Linked DNA regions of Homo sapiens: region 2 is linked to region 1. Evidence: fine-mapped expression QTL. Tissue or cell type: blood mononuclear cells. Region 1 holds a variant in brackets; the other region holds the start of a gene. All regions are shown on one strand. Distances are between the middles of the regions.

What was found. PIP is the estimated chance that this variant, and not a neighbour inherited with it, causes the effect.
Region 2: it holds the start of DEGS2, and the variant in region 1 is fine-mapped to the expression of DEGS2 in blood mononuclear cells (TOPMed, PIP above 0.99). The same link has a PIP of 0.9 or more in whole blood.

The regions. Positions count from the first base shown.
Region 1 is chr14:100,115,329-100,123,245 of GRCh38, reverse strand. The region is part of intron 3 of EVL (Enah/Vasp-like); the gene reads right to left. Among named protein-coding and RNA genes, the nearest start is that of MIR342, 9.6 kb to the right of the region's middle. The variant C/T (reference allele first, on the strand shown) is at 4,369.
Region 2 is chr14:100,155,020-100,162,936 of GRCh38, reverse strand. It overlaps DEGS2 (delta 4-desaturase, sphingolipid 2), which reads left to right and starts at 3,292. Exons shown (of 3, transcript NM_206918.3): 1 at 3,292-3,431. The coding sequence starts at 3,350. LOC124903380 (a long non-coding RNA gene) reads right to left here and starts at 2,900. Exons shown (of 2, transcript XR_007064330.1): 1 at 2,806-2,900; 2 at 1,223-1,629. RefSeq lists silencers at 2,946-3,345, 3,446-3,505.

The DNA.
Region 1 (7,917 bases):
TATCTTCTCACTGCTTCGACCTTCTTGCTGGCCACCACCCCCTCAACCCTTTAACATTGAATCTGGCCTCTTTACATCCCACCAGGATGTTCTAATTAAAATCAGCGGGGAACTGGGAATTGCCAAACCTAACAAGTCCACTTGATTCCACTTTCTGAGCAAAGGACTGACACTGACAGCTGGCGGATGTCTTGGTCAGAGTTAAAACCTGGGTGTGTCTGAGCTGAGGCCTATGCTTCTAGACCTGGGGTGACCCCTGCTGTCTACAAAGGGTGTCTGGAGCTGCGGGTGGGAAGGAGCCAGACCCTGCCCTTGCTCCCCTTGTTCTAGACTGGTGTGGAACTTTCTGGCCACACCCTGCCCTGGACCCTGAAGGAGGGACCCCGGCATAGGCGAAGTCTGCTGTGCAGACCTCCTGTTCAGAGGAGGCTGGAGCTGGGGCCTGTGCAGGGCTTCCCATGCTGTGCCACAGTTAAGCTTCTGCCGCCACCTAAGAAAGAGCTGACTGTTCCTTCTCTGCCAGCTCAGGTGTCACTAGGGAACTGCAGAGAGTCGCAGTGACTGGGAGAGGGACTCTGGGCAGGCTGCTCTCATACCTCCCTGACAAGATGGGGAAGTGGCTTTGTTTCTGCCGCAGGATGGGGTCACAGCAATATTCAAGTTACAACTGCACTGATGATGTGGGGACAGCCCTGTTCCCTCCTACTTCATAGAGGACCAAGGTCTTAGTGGTTCTTCCCTCCTTGTTCTCAAGAAACAGAAGGAATGAATATGTGAACATTATTACCAGAGCAACGTCCAGGCACTTTTTAAAATTTAATGTTAAATTTAACTCTAATTCTCACAGCCCTATAAGAAGGCTCCCATAAGGACTTGTAACAGCTGGGAAGCCAGGCCCAGAAAGGCTAAATGGCTTGCCCAAGGTCTTACATACAGCAAGTGGCAGATGCAAACCAACTGCAAATGCCACGTTCTTTCTTAAACTCAATCAGACAGTGGTGTCAGATTGAGACCAGCTTGAAGAAAGAAGGATGAATGTGGCAGACTCATAAGCTGCCCTTGGATGGTGTGCAAGGTGCTGTGGGCATGTGTCCCCCCGCCCCCTGACTGCCACTCATCCTGGCTGAGGCGGGAGGGATTCCTGGCGTTTCAGCTCCACGTCCGGGACTTGCACCTGAGCTGCTCTGCTGTGAGCTTGGCACAGGCTTTGGGCTCTGGCTTGGACAACTGGACATCTGCCTTGTTCTAAGACCGGGTCTCAACGGCTGAGTTCACTCCTGGATCTGGATTTTGTCCTTCTGGGAGCTGAGTCCCTGTCCCAGCGACCCTGTCTAGCATTTGGTCTGAGGGTTGGCCCTGCCCTAGGATGGAGGCCTTTCCACGCTTGGGCTCCACCAGCTGTCGCAAGATCCTTCTGTGTCTGTGGTCTGGCCTTGCCCAGGTCACTGTAACTGTTTTCCACCCTTGTCAGGACCCCGATGGCAGCCAGCTGCCCACACACAGGCCTGTGTGGTTGTGTGCTTTGGATTCCCCATTTTGCCTGCTGGGCTGACGTCCTCCCAACACCCTCCCAACCTGTTTCTCCAGAGGCTGGGAAAGTCTAATAGGAGCCCTGGCCCTTCCAGAGGGCTCTGGCCCCTGCACCTAAGACCTGATTAAAAATTGGCTGGAGTTTTAGACCCGACAGAGCAGGAAAGGATAACACTTGATTGCACTGATTACGTAAGGCTTGCCATTCTTCTTAAACGAAGAAAATGTTCAATTGTTTTGAGCCACCATGGCCCTGAACATTATAAAAGTACAGTCCTTTTGTTTTAGGGGTGGGAGCTAAGGCCCAGCAAGGCGCAGGGGTCTGTCCAATGTCACCCAGGGTAACTGTGACAGACCTGAGGTTCCCATCGCCCCCTTACTCCTGGCCTCCTCCGTCCCCCGGCACAGCTTCCCCGTGGCAGTCGGGGGGAGGGACAGGGAAGGTCATTGCTGCAGACTGCTGGTGGCCCTTGGGAAGCTCCAAGCAGCAGCCCCTTGGCAGGTGCTTGTTCAGTGGGAGGAGTAGCTAAGGAAGGCTCCTGGCTGCTAGTAATCAGACTCCCTCGTGTCTAGTGGTGAGGCACTACACATGACTTCCCTGCGTGATGCAGGCAGAAGCCAAGGCGGAGGATGTGGCACCTGTCCCGTGCTGCAGATGAGCACCTTGGAGCCACCTCTCGTCGCCCGAGCTGAGCTTGGATTCCACAGGAGTCAGGGCGATGGGGATGGTGGGAGTCCCAGCTCTTCCCTCTCTGCCTCCCACGGCTCGTTAGGTAACGGAGTCTTGTTGGTGCTGTGTCGGCTGCCCCACAAAACACCCTGCTTCTCTGCTGCCACCTGGCAGCCTTGGCGTCTCTCTCTTGGACCCTCACCTCCACTCTCTCTCATTCTGACAGTGTGGCCTAAGTGATGTCTGGGAAACACAGACATGACCTGCACAGGGTTGGGTCCAGGCTCCATTGAATAAGATTCAAGGTTTCAGCCTAGGCCCCAGGCCACCTTGTGGCTGCGCCTCCCCGACAGTCCTCCATAGCTGACCTCCTGCACCTGGACACTGGGCCCGGCCCCACCATGCTTCCTGTCTCTCTGTGTTTTGTGCGCTACTCAACCCATGTGGGTCACCTTTTCCTGCCGTCTCCACCAAGCAAGGCTTCCAGGCCCAGCTCAGTGGTCACCTCTTCCATGAAGCCCTCCCCAGGTCCTCATGCTCCTTCTCACCAACCGGTGCCCATGCGCCTCTCTTAAAAACTGACAGCTTTCTCACCCATATTCCAGTAATTTGGGAGCTGCCTTCTTTTCTGTACTAGACCCTGGGCTTCTTGCAGGCAGAGAGCACGTCTCACTCCGCACTCCACGCTCATAGCCTGGCTCGCATCAGACACTTAGTTCATATTCCACTGAACTAAGTCAGGAAGGGGAGAGGGGGCTCAAGCTCACTCACCCTTGGGGAAAAGTTCAGGTGAAGGAGTCATGCTGAACTGACTTGAGTGAAAAGAAAAACCTAGGAGGTGAGCCACGGAGATATAGGGATTAGAAGGGGTCCCCCAAGTTCATGCTTGTCCAGAGAGGATGCAGCAGTGTAACGATGCCCTGCCAGCACCAGGTACCCTCTGCTGACCAGAGGCCTTAGGGACAAACTAAAGTCACAGAGCTGCTGACCCAGCCTTTTTCTCAGGGCTGTGAGTTTCAGATGCCTTTCTGCTAGAGGACCCTGTGGCTCTGCACACAGTGGCAGAGCGCAGAGTCACCTTCTGTGGCCATGAGGTGCCCTCCTTTGTACAGTGAATGTATGGCAACGATGGTCTGCGGATCACATCTTAATTGTCTTGTTCCCATGAGGTACTAACCTGGGCAGGCAGTGGGCACGAGAGGACCTGGCCTAAGTTCTGCCTCACATCTGCCTAGTCATGCACCCCTAGGCAAGCTGCTGTGCCCTCATCTGTAAAATGGGAGTCCTAATACACTAACGCTAACAGTGGTACCTCACCAAGCTGCGGTGAGGAATAAACAAACTCTAGGAGTAAAAACCACATGGTAATCCATAAAGTGCTGGAAATATTTGTTCGCATTACTGTTGAAAGCACACTGTTGATCTTTCTGCTGAGTTGGACGGGAACCTGCCTATGTGCTGGCTTAAGTGGCCCTCTGCCCCCCAAGCCTTGCTGGTGTGGTCCCCTCGGTGGAGCGCTTTCTTCTCCACAGGCTGCGTGCACTCACTGCCCAGCTGGTTCCACCACGGCCCCCTGAAGTATACGGGATGAGTGGTGGTGGTTCTCAGGGGTGAGGGGACTTGCCCAGAGCCACAGGGTTTGTGACGCTGGCCCCAGTGTCCCAAGCTTGTTGAGTCTGGGAGCTGATTTTGCCGAGGCAGGGGCCTGGCCCATTCACCTGGGACTCCAACTAAGAAAACTCTCACCCTCTTCTCATTCATCTCAGACAAATTTTGTCAAGTCAAAATAAAGAGGATGAGATAGGAAACAAGCATGAGAAGAAATTCAAAAATTAAAAAAGGAAAAATAAAAGAACCCATCATGCCACAGACAAATGAAAAAGAGAAAGGGAAATTTCAGGTCCAACATCAAACAAGAGCAGGGTGGCTGGGCATTCATGGTGTCATGTGGGTCCAGCCCTTGGTGGCAGGGCTCACCACTGGTAGCAGGACGGGCCATAGGTTCCCTGGCTGACCTCTTCTCTGAACACAAAGAGCTGCAGGAGGACAGAGGCTGAGACCCAGCCAAGGCTCAAGTCCAGGCTGGCCTGCTCCAGGGCCCGCTGGACTGTGATGATTCTTGGGAAGGAGCTGACTTCTTGCTGTCTTGGAGGCCCACTTTCCAGCTT[C/T]GAGTCTAAGTTCCATCAAACACCCACTCCTCCCAAACACAGTGGTGAGTCAGAGGAGCCCTTTTACTCTTAGGAGCCATGAGCTGGGGAGAAACACACAAGAGGGGAGGGAAGGCTGGGCCAGACTCAGCCATGAGCCCTCCTGAAAGGGAGGGGTGGTGAGGTGGGGTGAGGGGGCCAGCCACAGGGGACAGGAGCTGACAGACTCAGGGCAGAGTCTATATGACTGATGGGGAGTGGGGCCAGGAGGTCCGAGTCCCTTCTCACTGGGGAGAGTGAGCACTGCAAGAGGCGGGCTCCCGTCTGGCAGCATCTCTACCTGGGACACACTACAGGCGTTTGGCGGTCACTCCCCTTTGCTGCTATTCTGCAAGCAGGGACATGAAGAATTGCCATGTGCCCTTCACAGGCTGCTCCAAGGAGGAGATGAGCTTATACATGGTCCTTGTATTGTACCTTTTCAAAAGGCTTTTATAGCATCTCTCTCTGACATAAGGATTTGACAAAGGATTCCAAAGCAAGGTACTGCCATCTTCAAGAAAGCTGTCCTAGTGTAGTGGAAAGGGGTAGGGAGAGCACAGAAGAGGGAAAATCTGGGCACGCATTATGGGCTTCACGGAGAATGAGCCAGATGCAGGTGACACTCCTCCCCTCCCACTTCCTCATAGCCTGCTGAGACTCGGGCGGTCAGGCGTGGCCCAGGTGTAGGAGAGCACCTGCTCATGGGACTCTGAATGTGAGTCCGAGTTCACCAGGATCCATGACATATGCTTGCACATACCAGGAAGGGCAGGAGGAAGAGCGTGGCCAACAGAACAGCCTGACTTTAACTCCATGGACATAACTGTTTTGCTCACCTCTGTATTCCCAGTACTTACCATAGTTTTTGACCTATAGTCAATGCAATACATATTTGTTAAGTACGTGGATGACTGGCCCCAGGCAAACTGAGCATCTCCAGCCACTGGGCGAGCCTAGAGCGAGTGACACAGTCTTAGAGAAAATAGCAGAAGTCTAATGGCTTATAAGCTCCCAGAGCAGGAAACAGTGGCTGAGCTGAGGACTGGGCCTCACGAGCTATCAGTGAGTGACACACCATAGGCCACCAGTGGCAGTGGCACTTAGAAAATACAATGAGTTGGGGTAAGGAGAGAACTCAAGTTTATTGAGTGTGTATTACACTACGTACTAGATCCTGTGCCAGAGACTCAGACACCACCTCGTTTAGCCTCCCTCGTCCTAGGAATCCTGCTGTGAGCTCCACTCTACCCGTAAGAAAGCTGGAGAGTTGGAAAACTGAAGTAGCATCTTTGTGGCCTCTGAACAGTCAACAGTTAAGCCAGGCTTCAACCCCAAAAGAGAGGACTCTAAAGCCCTCCACAGAGTCACCAAGACTGCAGGGGGATAGGACACATGGAGGAAGAAGGGTCAAGCGGGGCACAGAGACAGGGAGAGCAAGAAGGGGAGCCCAGCCCTGGTGCGAGTGTGAGAAGCTGCGGCTCGGAGCCCCCTGGCGGAGCCCCTTCTTGGGCAGGAGTGTGGCACATTGCCAGCACCCAATGGCCTTGCTGCCTCAATGCCCATCCACGTGGCACCGGGAGAGGTATCCCAGGAGCTGGACAGGTTCTCAGGGCTGTACAGAGAGCCTTAGGAGCCACCCGGTCTGACCTCAAGTGCGAGGCCCTAGCTGGGGTGGGTGGTTCTCACTGGCAAAGTCTTCTTCCCAAAGGGTGAAATCTGTCTTGCCAGGACTGCCCCCAGTGGTCTGTCAGGACCACAAAGACCGTCTCTCTGTGCTGGCCTGGCAGCCCTGGTGCACTCCCCTCCAGGCCTCCCTTGGTCCCCGTCCTGTCTTCCAGTCCCTTTCCGCCTTGGCTGTGCTCTCCTGGACGGTTCTGGATTGTACGAATCCCCTTCAGAGTGAACTGTGCTGGAGCTCTGCCAGTAAGTTAGGTGTGTGGGAGTCTCTCTCCTCTCTGGACTTCCATTTTCTATAAAGTGAGAAGCGTGGAACCAAGGATCATCAGCTCCAAATTTCTACAACTCTAAAGGACAAAGGAGGAAATATACTAAAATGTTCACAGTGGCTATCTCGGGATTGTGGGCTTATATTCCTCTCTCTGAATTTCCAAATCATGCACTACCTCTAAACAAATAAATGTCTAAGAGACCCTACGGAGGAGAATCCCTGCTCTGCGATCCATCCTCCGCGAGGTATGGTGGGCGCGGGGTAGGCAGGGAGCGGTGTGGCTCCTGTCTGAGGTAATGCATTAATTTATACAGCCAAAGGCAGGCAGACAAGGCGAGGAACTACTGACCCCTCCTCCTGAAGAAGGCCTTCCTCTTGGCCACCCCTGAACATTTATGAGGCTCTGGGAGACCAGCCCCCAGCTCCTCTGGGATGGAAGGGATGGGCTCAGTTTCCAGTTAGTCTCTATGGGAAGTCTCCCTGGGGCTCCTGAAAAGATAGAACCGGAGATGTCAGGGGTGCCAGAGACAAAGGATCCAGCACTTGCTCAGTGATGCTTGATGGAATTTCTGGCCAACAAACGACAGCCACCTGGTCTGAGCTGGGCAGAGTCCCAAGTTCTTCTAAGGCCTCCTCCCTGCTCTGCCATCTTTCTGGCTGGCTCCTTTCCCTCTTTCCAGAGGGTCCCCTCATTTTACAGTGAGACTGGGCCATCCCCGGCACACCTTTCCCTCTTGTTACAAGGCCCTGCTTTCCTCACAGGTGCCATTCCTATCACCAAGCGAGCAAGTGTCTAAGCGAGAATGGAGTCTGTGAACTGGGCTAAGCTTGGTCTGGCCACTATCTTTACCGTCACCTGGCCAAGGCCATACAAGAATTGGTGGCAGAGCTGGGACCAGAGCCCACGACAAATGTCTCCCGGCCCAGGGCTCTGTCCACCCCAGTGCACTGATGCTCAGCACTGATTAATAAACAAACAGCTCTGCATTTGTCTTTGGGAAACAAAGGCAGCTAGTGTTGAACCCTATCCTCCGAGCTCAGCTCAGGAGGAGACAAATACCTGATTGTCACCCTCCCCATTCTAACACGAGCTTAGACAGCTTAGTTGCTTGCTTAAAGGAACCCGGCGTGAATTTTCTAGTCTTTTCTGCTGAGTTCTTACCACATGAATTTAGGCTCAAGCAGGCTGACATGTCTTACTCAGATTACCAGAGCCAACTGACCCACTGAAATCCTGCAACAGACCCTCCTACCTAAGCCCTGGCCCTGGGCTTAGCAGAGACAGCTCAGCTCCATGGTGACCAATAGGTAAAGCTGTGTCTAGGCGCTCAGGGTCTGAAAGACCTGTCAAGTTAGAAGGTCATCACTTACAGATGTGGGGATGGCACTTCAGAGAGTGGGGGACTGACCAGGGCCACAGTGGGAAGCACCCAGCCCTTGCAGTCATGCACTAACAAGGAGACACTGGAGAGGAAAAGCGCTTGAGTTCTGACAAAGGACAGCAGGGGGCCTGGTGCTGCGCATGTACCGGCGAGAAGCACCCCTTGTGTAGAGGGGTCCCGAGGCCCAGGGAAAGGGCA
Region 2 (7,917 bases), 40 kb before region 1:
AGGGGCAGTGTGAAATGTCTTCTGGCCTGTTTTCTGCAAACACGAGGCAGTGGAGGCCTTTTTGCATGGGGCAGCTAATACTGTCATTGAGGCTTTTGGGTGGAGGCCCATCCTGCTCCTGGCACAGCACTCCGGCCAGGGGGCTTACAATCAGGGCCCTCTTGAGAGGTAACCAGCACCCCACCCCTGCTGCTGCCTGGCCCAGGGGAAATGGGGGTGTGGAGGGAGGCCAAGGGGCCACTGAAGAGTAGCTGGCCGTGGTGGGCTCCCTCTCAGTTTCCAGTCCAAAGAGTCCCTGCTTTCCAATGCTGTGTGCGCGTGTGTGTGTGTACACTCCCAAACTTTATATTTAAAAGAAACTATATTTTGGCTGAGCGCGGTGGCTCATGCCTGTGATCCCAGCACTTTGGGAGGCCAAGGTGGGTGGATTCCTTGAGTCCAGGAGTTCAAGACCAGCCTGGTGATCTGCCTGCCTCGACTTCCCAAAGTGCTGGGATTACAGGTGTGAGCCACTGCACCTGGCCTAATAAACTTCATTTTATTTTATTATTTATTTATTTATTTTATTTATTTTTATTTATTTATTTTTGAGACGGAGTCTTGCTCTGTTGCCCAGGCTCTGGAGTGCAGTGGCGCAAACTCGGCTCACTGCAAGCTCCGCCTCCCGGGTTCATGCCATTCTGCCTCAGCCTCCCGAGTAGCTGGGACTACAGGTGCCCGCCACCATGCCCAGCTAATTTTTTTTGTATTTTTAGTAGAGACGGGGTTTCACTGTGTTAGCCAGGATAGTCTCGATCTCCTGACCTCGTGATCCACCTGCCTCGGCCTCCCAAAGTGCTGGGATTACAGGTGTGAGCCACCGTGCCCGGCCTATTTATATTTTTTGAGATGCAGTCTCGCTCTGTCGCCCAGGCTGGAGTGCAATGGTGCAATCTCAGCTCACTGCAACCTCTGCCTCCCAGGTTCAAGCAATTCTCCTGCCTCGATTACAGGTGCCTGCCACCACGCCCAGCTAATTTTTGTATTTTTAGTAGAGACGGGATTTCACTATGTTGGCCAGACTGGTCTCGAACTCCTGAGCTCAGGTGATCTGCCTACCTCAGCCTCCCAAAGTGCTGGGATTACAGGCGTGAGCCACCATGCCCGGCCATAAACTTTATTTTTCAGAACAGCTTTATATTTACAGAAAAACTGTGATGATAGTTTAGAAAGTTCACATATATGCCACACCCAGTTTCCTTTATTTTAATATCTTATAATATGGTGCATTTGTTGCCTTTGATGGACCAATATTGATACACTATGATTAACTATGGTCCAGCTTTACTAGGCTTTCCTTAGCTTTACCTAATGTCCTTTTTCTGCTCCAGGATCCCATTCAAGACACCACATTACAAACGAAAATGTATTTTCTGTCATTTCTGGGACAACGGACAGGGTGGGGACGCAACAGTATGTGCTCCTGGCTCGTCAACACCGTGAAGCTGGGTTTCTGGCTCCCCAGGGACTTGGGGAGCACTTGGCAAGGGCATCAGACTTGATTTCATGCATCCTGGGTGTCTGTTCCACTCCCAGGTCTTCTTCAGCATGTCCTCTGACTTGTCCCCTCTCTGGCCTCAGTTTCCTCATCTGGAAAATGAGGGCCTTGGTGAGTTTCCTCTGGATAGGCGGTGGCCTGGGGCAGAGGGAACTGGCAGGCTTGGTGTTGTCCTGAGGGTGGAGCTGGGGCTCAGGGCGGCAGATCTCACGGAGTTCAACACAGGGGCGAAGGCTCTGATTTTGGAAGCTTTTTAATTCAAAGGTCAGGGGCCAAAGTCATGCCCCAGCCTTGCTGTTAATTCCTCTGTGCCTCAGGCAAGGCGCTCCTCATCTCTGGGCCTCAGTCTCCTGATCTGTAAAGTGATGGCTGGTGGGATGACTTCTGAGGACCCTTCTGGCTGGGAACAGAGCAGGCTGCCCTGGGAGCAATGAGTCTTCTCCCAAGGGTGCAAGCTGGGCCGGGAGGCCTCCTGGGTGTGGCAAGGGGTGATGGCCATGGTGGCATGTGGGTCCCCCTGCTGATGGAAAATCTGGCCTCTGTGTCCACCTTTCCCATGGCTAATTCAGGGGATGGTGGCTGGCGGCTGCAGGACACCCATGCCTTCCTTCCTGGCTCACTCAGGACTGCCTTTGGCCCTGAGCTAAGGAAGGCCTGCCAAGTGTACCAAACCCCGGGCCATGGACTTCCATGGGACGCACAGAAGCACGCCCTCACTATGTGCGAGCCTGTGGCAGCGCTGGCTGATGTGTCAGTCAGCTCCCAGGCAACTGCCAGCCGAGGCCAGGCTCTGGCCCACAGGCACAGCAGGTCCACCCTCCAAAACTCCAAGGGAGTGGGAGAAGGAACAGAGGCATCACTGAGAGGGTGAAGATGAGGGGCCCTGTGCCCTTACCTCCCCAAAACTAGACTTTCCATTTGAGAACATTCAGGTTCTGCCTTGTTTCCAAGCGTTTGCATCTGCTGTTCCCCCTAGCACCAATGCCTTTCCCTTTTCTAGCTGTTGAACTCCTACCCACCCCTCAAGGCCCAATGCAAAAGTTCCTTCTATTGGATCCTAGCTGCTTCAGGGCCTACCTGTGTCATGGCACGTATCACCCTGAATCATAACAGCCACTTCTGTACCTGTGTCCCCATCCAGAACTCAAGTTCCCTGAAGGCAGGAGTGGGTCTGACTCATCCCTGTGAGGTTGCTGCAGACGCATTATCTCCCCTTTGCATTATTGGTGAAAGGGCCGGGTGGAGGAAGGGAGGATTGCTGCACCAACCTTTCCTCGGCGCCTGTTTACTGGCACCGTCGCATCCATTCCACGCCGATCCTCCGCAGTCCCCCTATCCTGCCAGCCGCTCCTCCTTGGGGCAGGGGCGGCGCGAGCCACAGGGGCGTGCCCGCGAGCGGGTCGGGGCTGCGGAGAGAACGGGCCGGGGTAAAAACCCGACGGCTGCCCGCGGGTGGGCGGGGCGCGCAGAGCCGGTGGGAGGCCGCGGTGGCAGCAGTCGCCCCCGCGCATCGAGGGACCCAGGGACTCGCGCAGATGGCACGCGGCCACCTCGGTCCTGCCGGGGAGCCCCATTTCCAACCGAGGCAACTGAGGTTCCCAAAGCGCCAGCTACCCGCCGGGGTCTGGAGAGCGCCGGGGCCCGGCCGCCCCGCCCAGCCAGAGGTGCCCCGCCCCAAGCCTGGCGCACCTGGCCCCGCCCCGCCGGGACCCCGCCCCCGCCCTAATCAGAGCTGGTTCCGCGCCGCGGCCGCCGCGACAGGTGCAGCAGAGCCGAGCCGGCCGCGCTCCGAACGGCGCCTCCCGCCCCACCATGGGCAACAGCGCGAGCCGCAGCGACTTCGAGTGGGTCTACACCGACCAGCCGCACACGCAGCGGCGCAAGGAGATACTGGGTGAGCGCCGCGCGGGGCCCACCCCGGTGGGGACCGCCCCGTTGGCCCGTCTGGAGTCGCGTCGTGGGGTCGAGCCCAGACGGGCCGCTCCAGCTCTGGCCCAAATTCCAGTGGGCGTTCCGCCATTGCCGCTCCCCTCCCTGGGGTCCCCGGCCGGCTCCCCGAGGGTCCCCCACCCTGGCCGGGTCTGAAACTCCCTGGGACCTGAGGATTCCGAGGACCCCAGTACGGGTCCGAGCGCCAGGGAGCGCGTCCCAGCTGTTCCTCGCGAGCCACTCCCGGGGCCAGGGCCGGGGCTCTGGGATGCTGGGACGCGAGGGCGCAGGGGCGGCCCCGGGACGCGCTACGAGGCGCACGCGCTCCCTGGCGCGGAGGCAGCTTGCGCGACGCGGGGCCTCCACCCGCAGTCACTGGGCGCCTGCTGCGCTCAGAGCCCCTGGGTCTCGCGGCCACGGGCGCCCCAGGCTGGAGTTCAGGGCGGATGAGCGCCGGGAAGGGAGCAAACGCGAATGAGAGGCGCGCGTGTTTTCTTTGAAAAAAGCAAAGATTGTACTAAAGAATCCTTCTATTCTGGCATGTCGCTTATTACGTGGTGGCTGTTTTCCTTGTTGCTTCGTGTCCTCTGCGAGGAGGGCATCTTTACCCACTCGGAGTCACTCTCGTTCATGCCAGAGGCCCCATCCCACCCACAAGCAAGGTGGCCCCGGTGAGTCGTCCTTGGCCCGGGCTTACGGGGTTAAAGGGCCTGCGTCTGGAGAGTGGCTTTTGCCAGATGCCACCAAATCGCCACAGGCTGAGACAGGCCCGCCCCTCCCGCCCTGCCTAAGTCAGCACCGCGCGTTGCCACACTTTGTAATCTTCAGTCAGATTGGGGAAACAATACCATTTCACTGTGGCTTTAATTTGCACTTATTTGATGGAGGTTTCACATTTTAATCGGGCGTTTTATTTAATTTAATTAATTTATTTATTTAGAGACAGAGTCTCGCGATCTCGGCTCACTGCGACCCCCGCCTCCCAGGTTCAAGCGATTCTCCTGCCTCAGCCTTCTGAGTAGCTGGGATTACAGGCACCTGCCACCACACCCGGCTAATTTTTGTATTTGTAGTGAGATGGAGTTTCACCATGTTGGCTAGGCGCGATCTTAGCTCACTGCAACCTCTCCCCACTGGGCTCAACTGATCCTCCTACCTCAGCCTCCTGAGTAGTTGAGACTGCAGGTGTGTACCACTATGCCCGGCTATTTTTTTTGTATTTTTACTAGAAACAGGGTCTTGCCATGTTGCCCAGGCTGGTCTCAAACTTCCGAGCTCGAGGGATCCACCCATCTCAGCCTCCCAAAGTGTTGGGACTACAGGCATGGGCCATGAGCCACCACGCCTGGCCTGAACAACTTTTTTTTTTTTTTTTTTTTTTTTTGAGAGGAAGTCTTGCTCTGTCGCCCAGACCGGAGTGCAGTGATGCGATCTCCACTCACCGCAACCTCCGCCTCCCAGGTTCAAGCGATTCTCCTGCCTCAGCCTTCTGAGTAGCTGGGATTACAGGCACCCGCCACCACACCCGGCTAATTTTGTATTTGTAGTAGAGATGGGGTTTCACCATGTTGGCTAGGCTGGTCTCAAACTCCTGACCTCAGGTGATTCACCCGCCTCTGCCTCCCAAACTGTTGGGATTACAGGTGTGAGCCACTGCGCCCAGCCAACTTTTTCTTTCTTCCTCTTTTTTTAATCCCATGGCAGCATACTGAGATACCATGACTTTTAAATGTTTGAAACCCAAGATACATTGGGTGGCTAGCCTGTGACTGCATCCCGGGGTAACTGGGGCCTCAGGAGCTGGAAGCCTCTATGTGGGTTTGTGACTGCTGTGGTTTCTCCTGGGAGGTGAGCTGCAGCCCAGCATCGTCTGGTCCCAGCAGTGGTAGCTGCCTCCCGTATGCTGTGGAACTCCTGGGGAGGGCTGGGAGGAACCTTGGGGGTCATCTGACCCTCCCTCCCTGCTCATCATGTGAACAGGGCAGGTGTCCTGGCTACTGCCCCTCAGCAGGTCTGAGGTGGGGCTGAGGCTGGAGCAGGGGCCTCCTTGGCCCTGTTTGCATTTCTGTCCCCTCCCCTGGCTATCCCCAGCTTCACTTCACAGGACTCATTGGGTATCTGGCACCATGTGGAAAAGGCAAGAGGCACATGGCAGCCAGTGTCCTGGTCCCTAGGAGCTCATATCCATAGAATAGGAGCTGGGCCTACCTCAGGGCCACCTGGAGGGATCCAGACACTCTGGGCTGTGGCCTCACTTTCCCAATCTGCAAAACGGGCAGTCGTCCTACCAGGCAGAGTAGGTGTGAGGATGAGATGATATCTCAGCTGGGAAGGTGCCCGAGGTGGTACCTGGCCCTCCAGGACGTGGGGAAGGAGCTCTCTCTAAAGAGGGAAGCCACAGGCCCTGGAACCAATCCAGGAGGCTTTCTGGAGGTGGTGGCTAGGAAGGTTGAAAGACTTGGAAAAGGGAGAGGCACCTGGGGCCAGGGCTTGGGGAGCACAAGTCCTCAGGGCGGGCCCTCCAGCTTGGTCCACGCTCCCTTTCCTGCAGGGCGGAAGCAGGGGCTTCCTTTCCACCTGTTGTTTTCAGCTAATAAATTTGGAATGTGCCATTCCCTCCCTCCCCGGCACAAGCTGTTCCCCCAGGTGAATGTCCCTCCTCCCTGCTCTGCCAGGCTCTGTCTTGCTTAGCCTTGCTCGCTCAGTTCAGTCCCACCTCCTGCAGAAAGCCCCTCCACTGCTCCCAGACCTGGCCCAGCTGGATGGGGACCCCTCCTCTGGGTTCCCCTCCATGGCTCCAAGCCCTCTGGGCTCTGGGCTCTTTGGGGCACAGTTCAAGAGCTTGGCTGTGGAGCTGAACCCCTGGCAAGGACCCTGACACCCACTTATTAGCCACGGGTGAGTCTGTAAACAGATGAAGGAGTTGGGGCCTGGGCAAATGAAAAGGGGTTAATAAATCATACCTTCCTAATGGGGCTGCTGTGCAGATTAAACGAGGTGATATGTAAAGTGCTTATTCCAGGACTCGATGAGTATCAGCTGCGATGATAATGATTAATGTCTCAGAGACCTGGCAAGGGCTGTCGTTTCCCTAAGGACAGGGAATACTCTCTGCTTCCTCCATGCCTATGCTATTCCCAGGCCTTGGAGAAATGCTCTGTGTAACTGCCAGCATCTCTTTATAGAAGAGGCAGGAGTGAGGCTGAGAGAGGGGAAGCAACTTGCCGGGGAACACACAGGCCAGGCTGGTGCTCAGGCAGCCTCCTGCCCCACCCAGCTGGCTCCTGCAGCCTATGCCAAGCTCCTGGGTGCCCAGGGATGTTCAATAAAGATCATAATCTGACAGTCAGAATCCAGGAAGTCCTTGCAAAGAGCTGGCTCCAGGAGCTCTGTGGGTTGGGGCCAAAGTCCATCTCCAGCTCCTGCCGGGGAGGGGGACATGCTCCCTAGAACATAACTTCCTAAGAAAGTGGGGTCTCCTAGGCCAGGGCTGAGGCTCCCTGACCTGAAAGGGCAGGACCGGAGCCAGCGAGACTGGCCCCATCAGAGACCCAGCCAGGCGTGGCCGGTGGAGTAAGAGGCAAGCTCTGGGTTTGTTTTTTTTTTGAAAATGAATAGCTTTGTAATTTTGTTTGTTTTTAAATTATGAAAGCAGGGCACACATGGTAATACAAAAATTCAAATAAAGAAAAACAAAAGAGGAAATCCCGGAAGCGAAACTGCTGGCTGTTGCTGGATTATTTGCTTCAGAAAGGCCGGGGCTGAGGCTCTGTCAGTGGTAACTGGTAAAATCCAGGACCAAACTGCCAGAGCCACAAGGGGATCCTGGGGCTCCATCTCCCAGCCACAGAGCTGCCCGGCTGCAGGGTAAACCCATCTCTGTAACGTACGGGGGCCTGGCTGCTCCCAGATCTTCAGTATATATTTGTCACTGGAAATGAAAGGCAGGTTTAGTGAGCGGCTGGTGAGAAGCTGGACACTTGCCACACTTTCCAGATCCAACTAGGTCCCAGGGTGCCTCCCACACTGGACAGGGTCAGGCTTGTCTCTTGGCACAAAACCTCAGGTGGCAGGGATGGAAGCTGTGGGTAGGTGGCTTCCCAGAGCATTAGGCCAGGGCTGGGAGGAAGAAGTTTAGGAAGGAGGGGATTAGGAGGGCTTTGCTGCCTTTGTGAGGAGAAGCTTGTCCCAGGTCAGGTTACTCAGCTGTGGATGGGTGGGGAAGAGGCCACGTTGTATGGAAGCATTTCCTGCTGTGGCCACCAGGTGGCATCGTCAACCCTGAGCAGGTTTGTGGTGGAACAGGGAGCTGGGAAGCAGGTGGCGGCAGAGGTGGAATGTTGGAGGGATGATGGGCAGTGACGGGCACCTCCCATGTGGCCAGTGAGTGACTGTCATATGATGGCATTTGGCCTCCCTGGGAAGGTGATACAGCAGGTCTCCCTAGATGT